Linked DNA regions of Homo sapiens: region 1 is linked to region 2. Evidence: fine-mapped expression QTL. A gene starts in region 2. The other region holds a variant in brackets. All regions are shown on one strand. Distances are between the middles of the regions.

Region 1 (9,530 bases), 33 kb after region 2:
GCCCCCAGCTCCTGGAGAAATCAACTCACTCTGTCCACACGCTCAGGGTCCCCACCACCACCTAAAAAAGAAGCAGTCTCCTTAGCAGGAAGGGAGGGGCCCATGAAGCACCCCCCTCCCAGAGGACAGTGGGGCGCAGGGCTGGGCTGGGGGCTGGGACACTGGACAAGGAGCCCTGGGGCTGGGGACAGAATGGGGCCTTACAACTCAGAGACACCCTGAGGAAGGGGGATGAGAAGGGGAACTAGAGTAAAAACAAACACTTGGAAAATCTCTGGTTCTGCTCTGACCAAGGCTGAAAAAATCCCACGACCACTTCTCATCCTCACCCTTGTCACCCAGTTGAGGAGCCGACTGCCCCCTGCCTGGCTGGGCCTGAAGATGGGAGGAACTGGCCCTGCCCTCCTGGACTTGGCTGGGAGATATGGGGACCCCCAGACCTGGGAGAGGGACTGAAGAGACCAGGGTCCTGGGGGGTGCACGGGATGTGGGGATGGGGGTGACCACGAGGAGGAGGATAGAGCCAGGCTGGAGGCACTTAGACTTGGGGCAGGGGCAGGCGTTTCTGTCTGTGGGAATAGGGTGGGAGGGGGCAGGGCAGAGAGTGCCCTGTGCCCCCGCCCTCAGCCAGCACCTACCTGAGCAGATGCCTTTCAGGTAAGGAAGGACTTTCTTCCACAGTAAAGACTTGCAAACAAACACAGCCACAATCAAGACTACGGCTGCAACTGTGACTCCTATGATGATGCCTGAGAGAGAACAGGGAGAGGCAGGAGTCCCTGGGCTGGAGGTCACCGTCTCCTCCACAGCTGGGACTTCCCCACTGTGCTTTGTACCTGATTCTTTGTGGACACATTCGATGTCACTCCAGGGTGTACAATCACCGACCTTGACCATCCCTCTGGGACACCTGGGTACACACACAGAGGGAGAGGGGGGACTCTTGATGGAAAGCTGGCCAGGTGGGATGAAAGAGGAGCCACCCTCCCTCCCCAGTGTCCCTGAGAAGGTGTCAGGGGAAGGACAGTCTCCTCGTGTCAGCAGTGGGTCCCCCTGTGCTCCCTTCTTGAGGCTGGGGAAGGGTCTGAGCATGCGCACTTCAGCCCCTCGGCCTCCCTGCTCTGGGGTCAGAGCTGCAGTTCCAGGAGCCTTCTGTGCTGGGCACACACTGAGCTTCCCTGGGCTGCAGGGGAGGCCTGCGTTAGGAGCAATCACACTCCAGGGGAAGGTCACAAGCCCGTGTGGCCACAAGATGAGTCCGGTCTTCCAGTCAACCACAAAAGTGAGCTCTTGTCCCCAGCTGTCTGCCCATTTCCCCCAATCACAGCAAATACTAGGGGGGCCAGAGAAGAGCAAATTACTCTTGGCCCCTAAAACCCAAATAGGGAAAAGACAGGTCTTACTGAGGGATCAGGGGCCAGGGGTGAGGCCGGCTGGGTGGGCTCAGGTCCTCATGGGAACTTGAAGGAGCTCCACCCATGGCCTTATTATGCCTTTTGTGGGCCATGGGCACTTTTGTCTTTATGGGCCCCTGCATGCATAAAAATATTAAAAAATACATTTTATTGCTGAATTGGTATAAAGATGAATATATGCCTGGCTGCATTCTACTCATTCTTCTTATTTCAAGAGAAATTAAATCATTTCATGGGCCCCTAAAATTATCATGGGCCCCAAGTCATGGCCTTCTGTGGTCAGTGAACAAGTCAGCCTGGTCAAGGGGACTCGTGCTGGGGAGGGGTGGAAAGAGGCTGCTGCAGGGGGCAGGGGTGGTGACACGCAGAGGGACCAGGAGGGGCAGCCACAGCCTCAAGGATGCCCCTTGCGGGTGCTGTCAGGGGAGAGACAGGGGTACAAGGAGACTTGGGTCTTTTGGGGTTCCATGGAGCTACTGGGAGCCCCCGGCTCCTGTCTCACCCTGTGCGGCACTTCCGGCACATCTCAGGAGAATCTTCTTCCCGGAAGGTGCCTTCTTCGCACTGACACACTGTGTTTCTGGTCGTGGTGCAGGGACTTAGCTCCACTTCACCTGACGACAGAGCATAAGGTTTTGGGAATGTGTTTTCCTGATGTGTCCCTTGACCCTTCCTCCCCACCCCAAGACCCTGCTACTCAGCTCAACTCAGTTTGCCAAGGAGTTCTGAGGGCCAGTTTCTGCACCAGCACACTCATGGCTCATTCAGGATACCCACCCTTCAGCTGTCACTAACACTCGTTGAGTCATACAAAAGGACCACAGTTCATTATTTATTACATTAGATTAGGGGAAAGCACCGTTTAGGGGACAAGCATCGTTTAGATTGCATGGCCAGTAGCAAGGGAAGTGCAAGGGATCACCTGAGAGACTGCAAGGAGAGGAGCCCTTGGGGGACTTCCCCAAGGCCCAGCCTGCTGGGGAGGAGGGAGAGGCCTGAGAACCTGAAGGGTGAGTGAGGCCGAGCACCTGCCAGGAGCACAGAGCCCAGGGGAGAGAGCCTGGCCCCAAAGCAGACCTGTGCCACTGCTGAGATCCAGCCCTGTCCACTTGGCCTGGCTCATGGCCCCACCCCCTTGCAGCTGACAGTTTAAAAGATTTCCTTACCATGTAGCATACATTATACAAATAATTTCTGTATTATTATTATTTTAATTAATTATTGAGACAGGGTTTTGCTCTGTTGCCTGGGCTGGAATGCAGTGGCACAATCTCGGCTCCCTGCAACCTCGGCCTCCTGGGCTCAAGAGATCCTTCTGCCTCAGCTTCCTAAGTAGCTGGAAATACAGGCACGCGCCACCATGCCCGGCTAATGTTTATATTTTTGTAGAGACGGGGTTTCTCATGTTGCCCAGGATGGTTTCAAACTCCTGGGCTCAAGTGATGCCTCCCAAAGTGTTGAGATTACAGGCATGAGCCACTGTGCCGGGCCTGTTTTATTTATTAAAAAGCTCAAAGACAAAATCATGGAACATGGTATGATGAAGACCAAGGTGGACCAGAATCTAGGTCTCCTGATCCCATTTTAGCTACAACTTTTATGTCATCACCCCGCATTCCACCTTTAGGCATGGGGTCCATATGTTCTGTACCTGAATCACACCTGGTGCAGCGCAAGCAGAAAAGGAGGTCATTCCAGTGAGTGCTATAGTCCTGTCCATATTTGCAGGAGATGCAATCTCTACCGTCTTCTGAGATATGGTGTCCTGGGAGGGGAGAGAAAAGCCGGTGAATGAAATGCCACAGGATTCCCAGAAGCTGGCAGTGGTGGCTGGGGGACTCCTCTTTCAGGGATGTGTGGAACCAAAAGAGGGAAATCTCCTCTACCTAGCTTGGTCAGTTCATCAATTCTGCATTTACACACCTTAAACCAGCACTGCCAAAAGAAATATAAGCCACACATTTATTTATTTTATTTTTTATTTTTGAGACGTAGTCTCACTCTGTCACCCAGGCTGGAGTGCAGTGGCGTGATCTCGGCTCACTGCAACCTCCGCCTCCTGGGTTCAAGAGATTCTCCTGGCTCAGCCTCCTGAGTAGCTGGGATTACAGGCACACACTACCACACCTGGCTAATTTTTGTATTTTTTTAGTAGAGACAGGGTTTCACCGTATTGGCCAGGCTAGTCTCGATCTCCTGACCTCATGATCTGCCTGCCTAGGCCTCCCAAAGTGCTGGGATTACAGGCGTGAGCCACTGCACCCGGCCTATTTATTTATTTATTTATTTATTTATTTATTTATTTAGACAGGGTCTTGCTCTATAGCCCAGGCTGGAGTGCAGTGGTGTGATCTCAGCTCACTGCACCCTCGACCTCCCGGACCCTCCCTCTCCCCCCGACCCACAAATAGCTGGGACTACAGGTGCACACCACCACACCGGGTTAATTTTTAGTGTACTTTTTTTTTGTAGAGACGAGGTTTCACCATGTTGCCTAGGCTGGTCTCAAACTCCTGGGCTCAAGTGATTCACTCTCCTTGGACTCCCAAGGTGCTAGGAATACAGGTGTCAGCCACTGTGCCCAGCCCACATATGAAATTTAAATCCACACTCAGCACATTAAAAAAGGTGAGAAGGGGTGAAATTAATGTTAATAATGCATTTTAATTTAATGTACCCCAGATAATATCACTTAAATATGTAATCCACATAAAACATTGAGATATTTTACAGCATTTTTTTCACAGTACGTCTTCAAATCCTGCGTATATTTTAACTCATGGCACATCTCAATTTGCAGTAGCATTTTTTTTTTTTTTTTTGAGACGGAGTCTTGCTCTGTTGCCCAGGCTAGAGTGCAGCGATCTCGGCTCACTGCAACCTCTGCCTCCTGGGTTCAAGTGATTCTCCTGCCTCAGCCTCCCGAGTAACTGGGATTACAGGCACCCACCACCGCACCCGGCTAATTTTTGTGTTTTTAGTAGAGACGGGGTTTCACCATCTTGGCCAGGCTGTTCTCGAACTCCAGACCTCGTGATCCACCTGCCTCACATATTTCAAGTGATTGGCAATCACATGGGCCTAGGGACTACTATATTAGACAGTGCCATCTTAGACCTTTAAAATGCACAGAAGAATGTCCTAATACCTGTTCTGAATGAGCTCCTAGCCAGTGGAAGATACACCAGGAGCAGAAGTCATACAACAATGGGAAAAGCCTTCAAAATTAAAGCTCACACCATCAGCCATGGGAAGAAAACGGGAGGAATCTCTATAGAGTCAAAGAATGATCCAAAGAAAAGGGGACTAAAGCTGCCCTGGAATGAGGATATGTTTCAAAATTGGAAAGTGTGAGTCCCGCCAACTCTGCTTTTCTTTTACCAGATTGTTTTTGGTCAATAAGTCTTTTTAATTCCATACGACTTTGAATATAAGTTCTTCCATTTTTAAAATAACACCACTGAGATTTTGGTAGGGATTTCATTGAATCTGTATATTGCTTTGGGTAATTTAACACCATTTTGATCTATGAACATGGAATATCTTCCTGTTTATTTTGCTTTTTTAAAATTTCTTACAGCAATGTTTGATAGTTTTCAGCGTAAAAGTTTTGCAGTAGCAAAGAACAATCCAAAAAGGAAATTAAGAAAACAATTTCATTGACAATGACATAAAAATGAATAAAACATTTAGGAATGATATTTAACAAGGAGGTGCAAGACTTTTAAAAAACATTTGTCTGCACATCCAAGAAACTCAATGATCTCCAAGCAGGATAAGTTAAAAGAGAACTACACTGAGACACATTATAGTCAAATGGACAAAAGCCCAACACCAACAGAAAATCCTGAAAGTAGCAAGTGGCCCACTCAGTATGTACAAGGGAACCTCAATAAGGTTATTAGCTAATTTCTCACCAGGAACCATAGAGCCCAGAAGGGAGTGGGTAACATATTTAAAGTGCCAAGAAACAAAAACACAAGCATACAAAATCCTGCAACCAAGAATTTGATATCCAGGAACATTATCATTCAAGAATGAAGAAGAAATTAAGACCTTCTTAGATAAATGAAAGGTAATGGAGCACATTACTAGTAGATCTGCCCTGTGAAATGCTAAAAGGAATCCTTTAGGAGGTAATGTAATGACATTAGATAATAGCTCAAAGGCATACGAAGAGATAAAGAACACTGGAGGCCGGGTGCGGTGGCTCACGCCTGTAATCCCAGCACTCTGGGAGGCCGAGGCGGGCGGATCACGAGGTCAGGAGATCGAGACCATCCTGGCTAACAC[G/A]GTGAAACCCCGTCTCTACTAAAAATACAAAAAAAAATTAGCCGGGCGAGGTGGCGGGCGCCTGTAGTCCCAGCTACTCGGGAGGCTGAGGCAGGAGAATGGCGTGAAACCCAGGGGCCGGAGCCTGCAGTGAGCCGAGATTACGCCACTGCACTCCAGCCTGGGCGACAGCGAGACTCCGTCTCAAAAAAAAAAAAAAAAAAAAAAAAAAAAAAAAAAAAGAACCCTGGAAAAGGTAACTATTTAGGTAAATATAAATGCTGGTACGCAGCTACTTAGGCTGCTATAATAAAATACCATAGACCAAGTGGCTTAAACAATAGACATTTATTTATCATAGTTCTAGAGATGGCCACCATCTTGCTGTGCATTTGCGTAACCTCTTCCTTGCACACACCAGAAGAGGGGGGGAGAGAGAGAGCGAGCAAGCGAGAGAGAGCAAGTTGTCTGGGTCTTTTCTTAAAAAGGCACTAATCCCATCATGAGGGCCCCACCCTCATGACCTCATCTAAACCCAATTACTTCCCAAAGGCACCATCTCCAAATACCATCTCATTGGATGGTAATGCTTCAACATATGATTTTGGGGACACAATTCAGTCTGTAGCACAGTATTATGGTACATTTGGTTTGTAAATCCTCTTATTTACTTATATGATTTAAAGAGCAAATGCAGAAAACAATAATTACAAATTGATGTTAATGGGCACACAATGTACAAGGATGTGATCTATAACAACAAGATGGAGGAGGAAAGACGGAGAAGTACAGGAGCACAGTGTTTGCATACCATTGAAGTTATGTTGTCATTACTCAAACTAAGCTCAAGTCCATCTCAGAAAGGGGCCAGTGGGTCCCCACACCCATCCTGTCTGATTTCCTCATTTTAGTATGTGTAATTGGAATAGACATACTCAGCAGCTGGCACAATCCCCACCTTCATTCCCTGACATGTGAAGTGAAGACTATTATGGTGGAAAAGACCAGGTGGAAGCCACCAGATTTGCATTTACTTAAAAAAAATAGTAAATCAAAAGCAATACCAGATGGGCATGGTGGCTCATGTCTGTAATTCCAGCACATTGGGAGGTCAGGGCAGGAGGATTACTTGAGGCCAGGGGTTTAAGACCAGCCTGGGCAACACAGTGAGACTCCATCTGTACACACACATACAAAATTATCCAGGTATGACAGTACATGCCTGTAGTCTTAGCTGCTCAAGAAGCTGAGGCAGGAGGATTGCCTGAGCCCAGGAGTTCAAGCTGCAGTGTGCTATGATTGTGCCACTGCACTCCAGCCTGGGTGACAGAGTGATACCCTGCCTGTAAAGCACAAAAAAACAAAAGCAATACAACATTCCTGGAGGGATTGCAGAGATCATTACCACCATCCAGGATGCATCTGTGGTGATTCCCATCACATGCCCATTGAACTTGACTATTTGGCCTGTGCCAAAGACAGATGGATCTTGGTGAATGACAGTGGATTATCATACGCTTAACCAGGTGGTGATTCCAGTTATAACTGTCCCAGATATGGTTTCATTGTTTGAGCAAATCGCCACATCCCTGGTACCCTGGTATGCAGGTGTTGAACTGGCAAATGCTTTGTTGGTCATACCTGTCAATAAAGACTCCCAGAAGCAGTTTGCTTTCAGTTGGCAAGGCCAGCAATATACCCTCACTATCCTGTCTCCGGGATGCATCAACTCGCAGCCCTATGTCATAATTTAGTTTGCAGGTATTTTTTTTTTTTTAATTAAACAGAGTCTTGCTCTGTCTCTCAGGCTGGAGTGCAGTGGCATGATCTCAGCTCACTGCAACCTGCACCTCCTGGGTTCAAGCGATTCTCATGCCTCAGCCTCCCAAGTAGCTGGGATTACCCATGTGTGCCACCACATCCAACTAATTTTTGTATTTTTAGTAGAGATGAGGTTTCACCATGTTGGCCAGGCTGGTCTAGAACTCCTGGTCTCAAGTGACCCAGCCACCTTGGCCTCTCAAACTGCTGGGATTACAGGCGCGAGCCACCACATCTGGCCTGCAGGGATATTGATGGCCTTTCCCTTCCACAAGATAACACACAAGACGATCCATTATACTGATGACATTATACTGATTGAACCTCACGAGCAAGAAGTAGCAACTATTCTAGACTTAATGGTAAGACATTTGCATGTCAGGGGGTGGGAAATAAATCTGACAAAATTTCAAGGGCCTTTTACCTCAGTAGAAGGACAACAACTGGGAAACAAATTCCTAGTTGTTGAATGATGTGGCACATAAGATATTCCTTCTCTTCTAAGATATTCTAAGATAAAAGATAAATTGTTGTATCTGCCACCCCCACCTCCCTACAACCAAGAAAATGACACAATGCCTAGTGTGCTTATTTTGATTTTGGTGGCAACATATTCCTCATTTGGGTGTGTTTCTCTGGCCTATTTATCAAGTCACCTAAAAATGTGCTAGTTTTGAGTGGTGCTCAGAACAAGAAAAGGCTCTGCAACAGGTCCAGGCTGCCGTAGACATTTTTCTGTCACTTGGGCCATACGACCCAGCAGACCCAACGGTGCTTGAAGTATTGGTGGCAGACAGCAATGCTGTTTTGAACCTTTAGTAGCCCACTCTAGGTCAACCACAGCACAGGCCCTTAGGTTTTGGAGCAAAGACTTGCCATCCTCTGCAGATAACTACTCTCCTTTTGAGAAACAGCTCTTGGCTTGTTTCTGGGCCTTAGTGCAGACTGAATGGTTAACCATAGGCCACCAAATTACTCTACGACCTGACTGCTCATCGTGAACTGAGTGTTATTTTGCCTACCAAGCCATAAGTTTGGGCACATACAGCCTAAAGTTTCCATTTCCATTTTCAAATGTAATTGGTATATATACAAAATTGGGCTTAAATAGGCCCTGAAGGCACAAGAAAGTTACATGAAGAAGTGGCCCAAGTGCCCATGATCCCCACTCCTGCAATATTACTTTCTTTTGCCTGGCCTGCACTTATGGCCTCATGAGGAATTCCCTATGGTCAGTTGCCAGAAGAAGGTTTACAGATGGTTCTGCACCACATACAGGTAACCCTTAGAAGTGGATGTTTGCAGCATCACATCCACTGTCTGGGACGTCCCTGAAGGACAGTGGTGAAAAGAAATCCGCTAGGCCGGGTGTGGTGGCTCACACCTGTAATCCCAGCACTTTGGGAGGCCGAGGTGAGTGGATCACCTGAGGTCAGGAGTTCGAGACTGGCCTGACCAACATGGTGAAACCTCGTCTCTACTAAAAATACAAAATTACCGAGCATGGTGGCACATGCCTGTAATCCCAGTTACTTGGGAGGCTGAGGCAGGGGAATCACTTGAACCCGGGAGGCAGAGGTTGTAGTGAGCCGAGGTCGCCCCATTGCACTCTAGCCCGGGCAACAATAGCGAAACTCCGTCTCAAAAAAAAGAGATCCTGCCACTGGGCAGAACTCTGAGCAGTACACCTGGTTGTTCATTTTGCTTGAGGGAAGAATGGCTAGACATGTAGTTATATACTGATTCATGAGCTGTGGTCAATGATTTGGCTGGAGGGTCAGAGGCTCTGAAGGAAAACTGATAACAAGGAAGTCTGGGGAAGAGGTGTGTGGATAGACCTTTCTCAATGGGTAAAAAAACCATGAAGATATTTGTGCCCCATGTGACACAAATATCTTCACAAAAAGTGATCTTAGCAGGGAAGGATTTTAATAATCAGGTGGATAGGATGACCTGTTCTGTGACTACCAGTCAGCTTCTTTCCCAGCCATCCTTGTCATCACTCAATGGGCTCATGAACAA
Region 2 (9,160 bases):
GTTGGCCAGGCTGGTCTCAAACTCCTGACCTCAGGTGATCCACCTGCCTTGGCCTCCCAAAGTGCTGGGATTACAGGCATGAGCCACCGCGCCAGGTTCAAAATACCTTTTCGAATAGGCATTATCTTTTTTAAAAATTTTTTTTAATAGAGACAGGGTCTTATTATATTGCCCAGGCTGGTCTCCAACTCCTAACCTCAAGCTATTCTCTCAGCTCGGCCTCCCAAAGTGTTGAGATTACAGGCATAAGCCACCACACCCGGCCTGAACAAGCATTATAGTGTTGCTTCCTGGCCTGTGAGCAGGAACCTTGTCTGAGGAAAGAGAAATCTGCATCCTGGCTCTTACGAAAGCTCCCCTGCCGGTCCCAGGGAGTTCTCAGTACAATCAAGGACAGAGAAGAACCCAATGATAGATTGGTGTGATTGGTATTATTAGGGGAGCACAGGGGAAGAACAGGAAAGTTACACTTTGTCAAGTGTAAGAAAGTATTCATGGAAGGCTTGCTGGAGGAAGTGATATCTAGGCTGAGACTTGAAAGATGAGTACACATTTATCTGGTGAAAGGAGTAGAAATAGAGTGTTCGGACTGAAGAACTGCTTGTGCAAAGTCCCAGAAGCTTCCTGTATCCTTGTGGGGACCTGATGGTGTCCCTTAAGGCCTGGACAGGGAGGCTGAGAGACTCTAGGCTTTCCAGATTCAGCTCCTTCACCCTGCTGGGGCTCTGCATCTTGAAATGCCTCTGCTTTTGCTCATGGCTGGTTCTGAACTTTGCCCCAGCTGCAGGGTAGGAACACCACGTGCCCCAGCCTGCACATGGCAGGGGATGGGGGGCGGAGCTCATGTCACAAGGCCCATGGGGTGGGCTCCGCAGAGGCTGTAGTGTTCCAGGAGAGGGGTGCCATGAAAGCGCGGTTAGTAGCCTGCAAAGTGTTGAAGGGTAAAGCTGCCTGTGAAGCAAAGGGAAGGTGCAGGTTGGAGGATGGACTGAGCCAGGCGGTCTGCGTTGGGCTGGCACTGGGAAGGGGCCTTCACAGCCACAGGGAGAGCAACGCTGGTGGGACTGGCCGGGGAGCCTGCTGCGCTTTGCTAAGAGCCAGGATGGAGGTTTCTCTTTCCCCAGAAAAGCCTCCTGTTCACAGGCAGGCATCTGCCCGGCTTCAGGAAAACAGCAGCCGCGTGATGGCCTGGAGGAGGGTGGTGTGGGGAGGCATAGAGGGGGTGCCTTCTGGGGACAGGTTCCAGGGGTTTATGTCACTGGGGAGGTGGGTCACAAGAGGGATTTGGTGAGGGAAGAGATGCTGGGGTTGGGCAGGGGCAGGAGATTGTAGAATGGAACCTGCCTCCATGCTGCCAGGAAGCCCTTGGGCTACAGCCACGCAGCCAGGCACATGGCAGGACATTGCCAGACCCACCAGCAGAAGCAGATTTGGGAAGCCAGCAATGGGGGGAGTCAGTGCTCAGGCTGAACTGCTCCTCGGAATCACACCAGTGTTTCCAAGCTGCAGCAAATGGGCAGAGAGGGCTGGTGTGTGTGTGTGTGTGTGTGTGTGTGTGTGTGTGTGTGTGTGTGTGTGTGTGTGTGTGTGTGTGTGTGTGTCTGTGTGTCTGTGTATGTAACGGAATGGAGGAGGCAGAGAAAGAAAGAGGCCAGGAGCTTTTGTCTCCCACCCAGGCCTGCCTTGAGAAGTCACCTGAATAGAGGAAAATGGACTCCTCAGGGCCTGGGGTGGGAGGGCGCAGTGAAGGGAGTGGGAGGCTTCCTGTGCTGTGAGACGCTGCTGCCTGCCGGGTGCTAACAGCTGGGGACAGGGATGGGCATGAGAAGGCCCAACAGCACCTTGCTTGCTGGTGGGGAAGCCTGGCCTCTGGGAGTGGCCCTGTTTTCCAGGATCTGGCATTGGAGAGATGGGCAAAGATGAAGGGACGTGCCAGATCCTCAGCTGGGGTACCAGGGGCTGGAGGCTGTCTTGAATAGCAGAGTGGGGGTCCCGGGGCAGTCCTGGCCAGGGCTGGCTGGGAAGAGGCCTGGTTTTAGCCACAACTGGGGCACAGGCCGGCGGCTGCAGCTTGCTAGTGGTCTGCCCCTCATACAGCGTGGGGAATGCTGCCATCTGAGCTGTGAGTAGTGAACCGCTGGAGCTCCTCGCAGGCTGGCCTGAGGAGGAGGTCTGCAGAGGTCCCCAGACGGCCTAGGGTGGGACATGGATGGGGCGGCTTGACAGTGACAAGGGGCTGCAGAGGATGGGCTGGGGGGCACTGGTAGGAGAAGGTGGGGACTTGGAGGAACTCTGATGATAAGAGGGAACTGATTGGGGCGCCAACCATGACAGCCCTAGAGGTGAAATGATGGGGAAGGACTTTGATTTGGAGAAAGGCTGAAAGAGGGAACTGCATGCAAAAAGCAGGGCTGGGAATTGAGGGAACCTCCCCAGCAAAGCTCCTGCCTCTGCCTGAAACAGTTCACTGAGTGTGAGCGGGGCGGGGCGGGGGCTGTGGGGGTGCAATTTCATTTGACACCCACATTTTTGTCCAAGACCCTTCCACCCCAATCAACACTACACCTTGGAATTCACACAGTCCAGCCTGGTTGAGGCTTCCAGGCTGAGCTGGCTTTTTCTCCCAAGGCAGAAAGGGCATTGGCTCTAGCTTACAGTCCGAGCAGCCACCCTCTCCTGCTTCATGACTTTGGGTGGACGGGAGTTCTGTCTTCCTACTCCTTGCTCCACAGGGGCTATGGTCCTGCCAGGACAGGTGAAAGGTGATGTCAACTGGCATCTGGCATTCAGCTGGTCTCTGGAGGTGGGTGGAGGGAACAGGGTGTCCGTGGGAGAGACCCTGGCCTGCCGTGGGAATCATGCAGAGATCTCAAGTTATGATTTTCTCTGGCGCAGGGGCTCTTTGGCACACAGAAGATGGGGTAAGTCTCTTCAATGCCAAACATGTGGAGGAAGAACATGTGTGAGCATGGTTTACTTTCTCTCCTAAATATGTATTCAAATAAGTACTTTCTGGTTTATGGAGGGTGAGTTCTAACCAGAAATGAGAAGTAAGTAGCACTGTCAGTCATTGTTAACCTCTTGGCTAGCTCTGAGTAGATTGAGAAAGGGGTGGGAGAAGCATCCTCCAACAACCGAGCACTTCCTGTACATTGACCAGGTAGGTAGGCACGTTGATCACAAACACCTTGAGGGACAGCTTCCAAGTATATGCATTCACAGATGAGAAGCATGCTTCAGACAACACAAAATTCATTTTTAACCCGGCTTTCTTTTGGCAGTAAATTTCTCTTCCTAATCATATTTTGCATAAACTAATATTAGAGTGGATTTGCATTTTCAGAGCACAAGATGGAGGAGTGGTGGAGGCGGTTCAGGTGGGTGGCAGGCTGGTCTGGGCTTTAAAAATTGTCCAGAGGTAACTGAGGAGATGAATCAAACCAGACTGAGCTGACTACTTAACACTAGCAGTCAAGATCATCCTGGCTGGGCATGGTGGCTCACGCCTGTAATCCTAGTACTTTGGGAGGCCAAGGCAGGCAGATCACCCGAGGTCAGGAGTTCGAGACCAGCCTGGCCAAGGTGGTGAAACCCCGTCTCTACCAAAAATACATAAATTAGCTGGGAATAGTGGCGTGCACTTGTAGTCCCAGCTACTCGGGAGGCTGAGGCAGAACTGCTTGAACCCAAGAGGCGGAGGTTGCAGTGAACCAAGATTGCACCACTGCACTCCAGCCTGGGCAACAGAGGGAGACTCAAAAAAAAAAAAAAAAAAAAAAGATTATCCTGATAAAACCAGCCTTGAATATGGAAAGTGTCTTCTAGGGACCCCTCAGGTTATAGATGTTATACCTTAGAATCTCTCTATTTTACAGAGGGGTAAATTGAGGCAGAAAACCCAAAGAAGGCTTAGGGACGATTTTCGAGGCTACTCACTTCATGGTGTTTCTTTCAGAGATTAGCAGCTATTACTGAACTCCAGGAGGCAACAGGAGGGGGATGGGATGGAGGTGGGGACCCGCTGAAGAAGGCCTAGGTGGGAGACAGGTAACGTGGTACAGGTACCCACCCCACAACTCATTAAGGGCCATGGAGGGAGGAAGGCTCTCAAGTGCCACGAAAATTCCCAAAGCAGCAGAGGGCTTGTATGGAAACGCCGGTTATTCGTCCCTACCCGGCCCCCGCCCCCCGCCCCCCCGACTGCCCCTGCCGTCGCCTCCCCGTGGGCAAGTGGTGGGGGCCTGGGCTTACAACCACACGTTCTCCTCCAACTAGCATCCCTTCCAGGGTGCACTAGGATGCCTCTCAGAGGTTCTCCCCCGCCTCCCGAAGGAAAGGGGAAAACCCCGTGGGCGTCCGGAGAGCCTTTGCGCCTCGCCAGGTGGAGGGACCGGCGCCACCCAGACCCGCGAGCCGAGACCCTCCCCGCGGCGTCGCTGCGGGAGGGGCGGAAGAGCGCGGGCGGTGGGCGGGAGCGGTGCTGCGAGGCGGGATCTGCGGGGCGTCCAATCCCCTTCTTCCCCCGCCCGCCCCCTCCCCGCCCCCCGAACGCTTTCCACCAACTGCGCGCGGCAGTGGGCGGGGCCCGTCACGGCTGTCGTCTTGGGTGCGATTTTTTTCTCCTCCTTTTTTTACCCTCCCGTTTTTTTCTTTTCTTTTTTTTTTCCCTATCCTTTTTTTGTGAATGAAAAAAGGAGGTCGCGAGCGGTACCTGGGACTGCAGCGCCAGGCGTCTTCGCGGCAGCGCCTTCGCCGCGGGCCCGGGCGCGTAGCGGCGGCGGCCTCGCCCCTCTCCCGGCGCCCCTGCGCGCCGCCCGCTGCCTCCGCAGCCCGGCTCCGCGCGCCGCCGTGACATTGGGCGCCTGGCGCGCGGGGCGATGCTGATCCGGAAGGGGCAGCGGCTGCAGTGCAGCGCGCGCGTCCGCTCCTGGGCCCACGTCCGGCCTGGGCTGCCCTGCCGGAGTTTCTGAGTGGCCGCGAGCTGGCCGGGAGGCTGGAGCCCAGCAGCAGCGCGGCGGCGCCGGCGTCGTCCCAACTTGCAGGCGCGGAGGGACCCCTGACATTTCACTAAAATGAGCGTGCTCAGCAGGAAGAGATGTGTTCCTCACGCTAGAAGCCACCCCGTCACATGTAGTGGTGTAAGTAGATGGCTGCTTGCGGTTATGGCGGGGTGGCCAGCAGCCCTTGCAGACGCGCCGCTCCGCCCTCCCTGCCCTGCCGCGCCCCTCGCTACGTTCCCCGGGCCCCGCTAGTCCCTGGGCTCTGGCTTCGGCTGCTGGGTACAGCGGGGCTGGAGCCTAATCCTTTCCGGTGTTTCTAGGGAAAGGAAGATGACTTGATTGCTTCGGCCTGTCGTGCCCCTCCCCCTTCTCGATGTTTAAAAATTTTTAAATTTCTATTTTGTGTGTGTGCAGAGTAGCGTGTCAGAAAAAAGGAAAAACGGTCCAGAGTGGTGGGAGTGATTCTGTTAAGAAAACAAACACAAAACAACAGTGGAATTGGGGTGTTTTGCTGGCGGTTCCGGAGCTGGTTCTTTGAACTCAACTCCATTGCAGTCTATGTAACTGAGTTCTGTGAAACTACTGGGGAGATCTTTGGCGGTGTTTGGTGATGTGTCCACATTTTAGGTTTGAGGGGGCTTATCTGTGTTTAGGCTTGCATTTCTTTAATCTGACCATTCAGGGTCCCTTTGGGCCTTGCTTTCTGTTGGATCTGCACGGGGCTTCTTGCAATGCCAGCGACCCCCGTGGGAGCCTCCCCGAATTAGGAGTCCACTCTCTCTTTGTTCTTCTCCTTCCAATTCTCCATTCAATCCATCTCCCTTGATTTTACCTTCATTTTCAGGATTTTCCTCCCATTCCCATTTTGTAAGATGATGTGGGATACTGGTTGCTAGGAGACAAGCCAGGCTCCCAGGGAGATTCTGTTGTTTCCTTGACAACCAGACTAGGGCAGCCACAGATGAACAAGCCTCCTATCAGCTGTGGGAGGGAAAGGGGCCCTTTCTGAGCTCTGCAAAGAGTGTGTGTAGGGGTGTGGGGGTGGGACTGGGAGAGCACGAGGTTTGTAGCTAATTTCAGCACACCTTGGGTTTTGGCTTGCACCAAGTACAAAGAGCTGGGAGAGCGGTGGGCAGGAGGCTGTTTTTGGAGGGGCACAGGGATCATGGGACAGGGATGGAAGGAACACATGCCAGTGACTTTGCGATTGTCATGGAAGAGGAGTGAGTTGGGGGTTGTGATGCCCAGGGCTGGGTGGTGAGGAGGTCATAGTTTATGGAGGTTGATTGAGTGGGGATGAGGCAATTGTGAGGGAGAGTCTGGAGTCAGGGAAGAAGAGAGAGCCGGAGGGAGAGGGGAAGCTGAGAGGCTCACTGAATGGGCTGTATCACCATATATCAGCAATGAGTGGGCTGTATCACCATACATCAGCAATGATACAACATCAGCAACATCCTAGGGCAAAAATTATATTACTCTTGGCACACTCTCTCCAGGACAGGATCCTCCTTTAAGACAGGCCTGATTAGACTAAGAGTTCTAACACTTGAATTGGGCCAGTCTGTATCTTAAAGACAGATATAATTACACATATAGATATGCAATCTAGCATTATATAATACCACATTACATAAGAAGACAAATACCTCCTTTCAGCCCAGCCTCTCTTGGCACAAATTAACCACGGTTCAGGAGACTCTTCCAATGTCTTCATACCCATTTCCCAGAGGGGGAGACTGATGCCCAGAAAATATAAGTGACTTGCCTCTTCCTAGATAGGACAGTGAAGTTTGCCAGTCAGGCAGTTGGGACAGGGTAGAAAGGGTGAGATGATACAAACAGAGAGGCAGCTGAAGGACAAGGGGACTGCTGAAGGGGCTGGGGAATGGATGGAAGGGGTTGCGCAACCCAGAAGGTCTGATGTCTAAACTCATGGCACAGTATTTGTCAATTTCCACTTGTTGATTGGCTGACCACTGCTTAACTCTAGAGGTGACATAGCACAGGTGGGCAGCAGTGTTTTCATCACAAAGTAGCTGAACTTGGCCCAGCACTGCTCTGCTGGTGTTCTGGCATTATTCTCACTGTCAAGGTGCTCCTGAATTTGAGAACTGGCATCCCTCCATTAGGCCTCCTCATTCCCCCGCTTCTGTCTACAGACCTACATGCTGGGAGAATCGGAACTTGAGAAAGAAGTTCTTTTGGCTCTTGGGTTTTAATCTTTATCCTCCAGCTGCACATATTTTGTATTTGGGATTATATCTGTTTTGGTATTCACTCGACAAAACAGAAACCACAGCCCAGATGCTGCCTCCTGGCGCCAGCACATTCCTCAACTTGAGATCAGGAACTGTCAAAGTGGGGTTCCCGGTCCTCAGTTCAGGAGAGAGAATTGGGAGGAGGAAGCCTGTGGTTAGAATAACAGTTCTTAACAGTTCTCTGGGCCAGGTGTGGTGGCTCACGCCTGTAATCCCAGCACTTTGGGAGGCCAAGGCGGGCAGATCACTTGAGGTCAGGAGTTTAAGACCAGCCTGACCAACATGGCGAAACCCCGTATCTACTAAAAATACAAAATTAGCCGGCATAGTGGCACACACCTGTAATCCCAGCTACCTGGGAGGCTGAGGCAGGAGAATCACTTGAACCCAGGAGGCAGAGGCTGCAGTGAGCCGAGATCATGCCACTGCACTCCAGCCTGGGTGTCAAGCGCAAAACTCCGTCTCAAAAAAATACAAAAACAAAAAACGGTTGTCTGCTGAGGGAGGGTTAGGAGAGAGAAGGGGTGGTACAGTTGCCCTGGAGACCATGAGGGCACTGCATGGAGACCTCGTTGAAGGGTCCAGATCCTGTAACATTCCAAAAAGGCGGAGGAGGTTGTCTCATTGAGAAGTCCTTGCTGCACTTTTTGCTTAGGTTGCTGAGATGCATCCACTCGCACGGATCCCAGTTGCTATCGTTACTTGGATATTTCGGTCTGCATCCCTGCATGCTGGCATCCAGTTACAGCCCAGCAGGAATGGAGCCTCCCTGTTGTTGCTGGTGGCCTGGCTCTGGGCTGGATGGCTCAGCAGCCAGGGTGCCTGGGCAGCCTCCAGCACTCAGAGCTCAGCCTTCCTTAGCCTAGGAGGGATGACTCCGGGCTGCTAAAGCCCCCCCAGACGACTTTCATACACACAGGAATGTGAGTGGGGCGGGCAGATGACGCTGGCGAAACCAAGCGTCCTAATCACGCTGGCCCTGCCCCTGCTCCCTAATCCCAGGAGGGTGGATGCCGAGGCCAGGGCCTCCTGGCGACAGATTTTTAAACACGAACATGACATCTGACTACAGAAGTGCCTTCTGTTTGTTCATTCAAGCCATCCCTCTCTGGGGGTGGACAAGCCACTTCCTCTCTGCTCAACATCGAAGGCAACTGAGGCAAGCATTTGCCCAGAAATTCAGGCTCAAATTTCTGATCTTTTGCTTTCTGGCAATCCCATCGCCCATGTAGCCAGTTTAGTGAACATCACCTAGGAGTGCCAGCTGCCTGGGATCTTCAGCCTGAGGATCATCCTCCCTAGGAATGGGAAGGGCAGAAGAGGGTGGAGGTGGATCTCACTCTCTGACGCTGGGGGCAGGGTGCTGGGAGGACAGCCCCCCGTAGGGGAAGTAGAGGCCCATTGGCCACTGACTGTATCATCATAGGCCTGTGGTTCCCCTCACCCGCATCTGAAAGCTGGACCTGTAGCTGAGCATGACACATGGGCAACAGGACAGACCCCGAATAGAGAAAGGGAGGCCCCTGGGCTGGTCAGGTGCATCCAGGAACCTCCCCATCCTAGAGAGGCTGGGAGGAAAAACTCTTGCATCTCCATAAAGGGGACTGGGGTCTGGGGTTGAAGCATGCACTTAGGCAGGCTAGGGCTTGGAAATCCACCACCACCAGAGAGGGCAAGGGAAAGAGTGGAGGCCAGGAGAGCTGCTGCCCAGTTCTGACAAGTCCATTAAATTTTAAAGTGCCCTGCCCTCAGGCATGCTGGGAAGGGGTGGGGACGTGGCCGACTCTGCTTCTCTCAGCTGTTTGTTGTTCTGCTGCCACTGCTCTGCCGGGGAAGGAGGAGGAGAGCAGATGAGTGAGCTGCCCTCTCTGGAGAGGGGACAGGGCAGGGCCTCGGCAAGCT

Evidence for each region. PIP is the estimated chance that this variant, and not a neighbour inherited with it, causes the effect.
Region 1: its variant is fine-mapped to the expression of RHOBTB2-AS1 in whole blood (INTERVAL, PIP 0.91).

What each region holds. Positions count from the first base shown.
Region 1 is chr8:23,027,693-23,037,222 of GRCh38, forward strand. It overlaps TNFRSF10B (TNF receptor superfamily member 10b), which reads right to left. Exons shown (of 9, transcript NM_003842.5): 3 at 3,067-3,180; 4 at 1,918-2,029; 5 at 639-910; 6 at 30-61. Among named protein-coding and RNA genes, the nearest start is that of RHOBTB2-AS1, 33 kb to the left of the region's middle. RefSeq lists enhancers at 553-1,053, 1,054-1,554. The variant G/A (reference allele first, on the strand shown) is at 5,709.
Region 2 is chr8:22,994,968-23,004,127 of GRCh38, forward strand. It overlaps RHOBTB2-AS1 (RHOBTB2 antisense RNA 1), which reads right to left and starts at 4,838. Exons shown (of 2, transcript XR_007060857.1): 1 at 4,712-4,838. It overlaps RHOBTB2 (Rho related BTB domain containing 2), which reads left to right and starts at 4,581. Exons shown (of 10, transcript NM_015178.3): 1 at 4,581-5,138. RefSeq lists silencers at 4,261-4,520, 4,741-4,910, 5,241-5,290 and an enhancer at 8,788-9,160.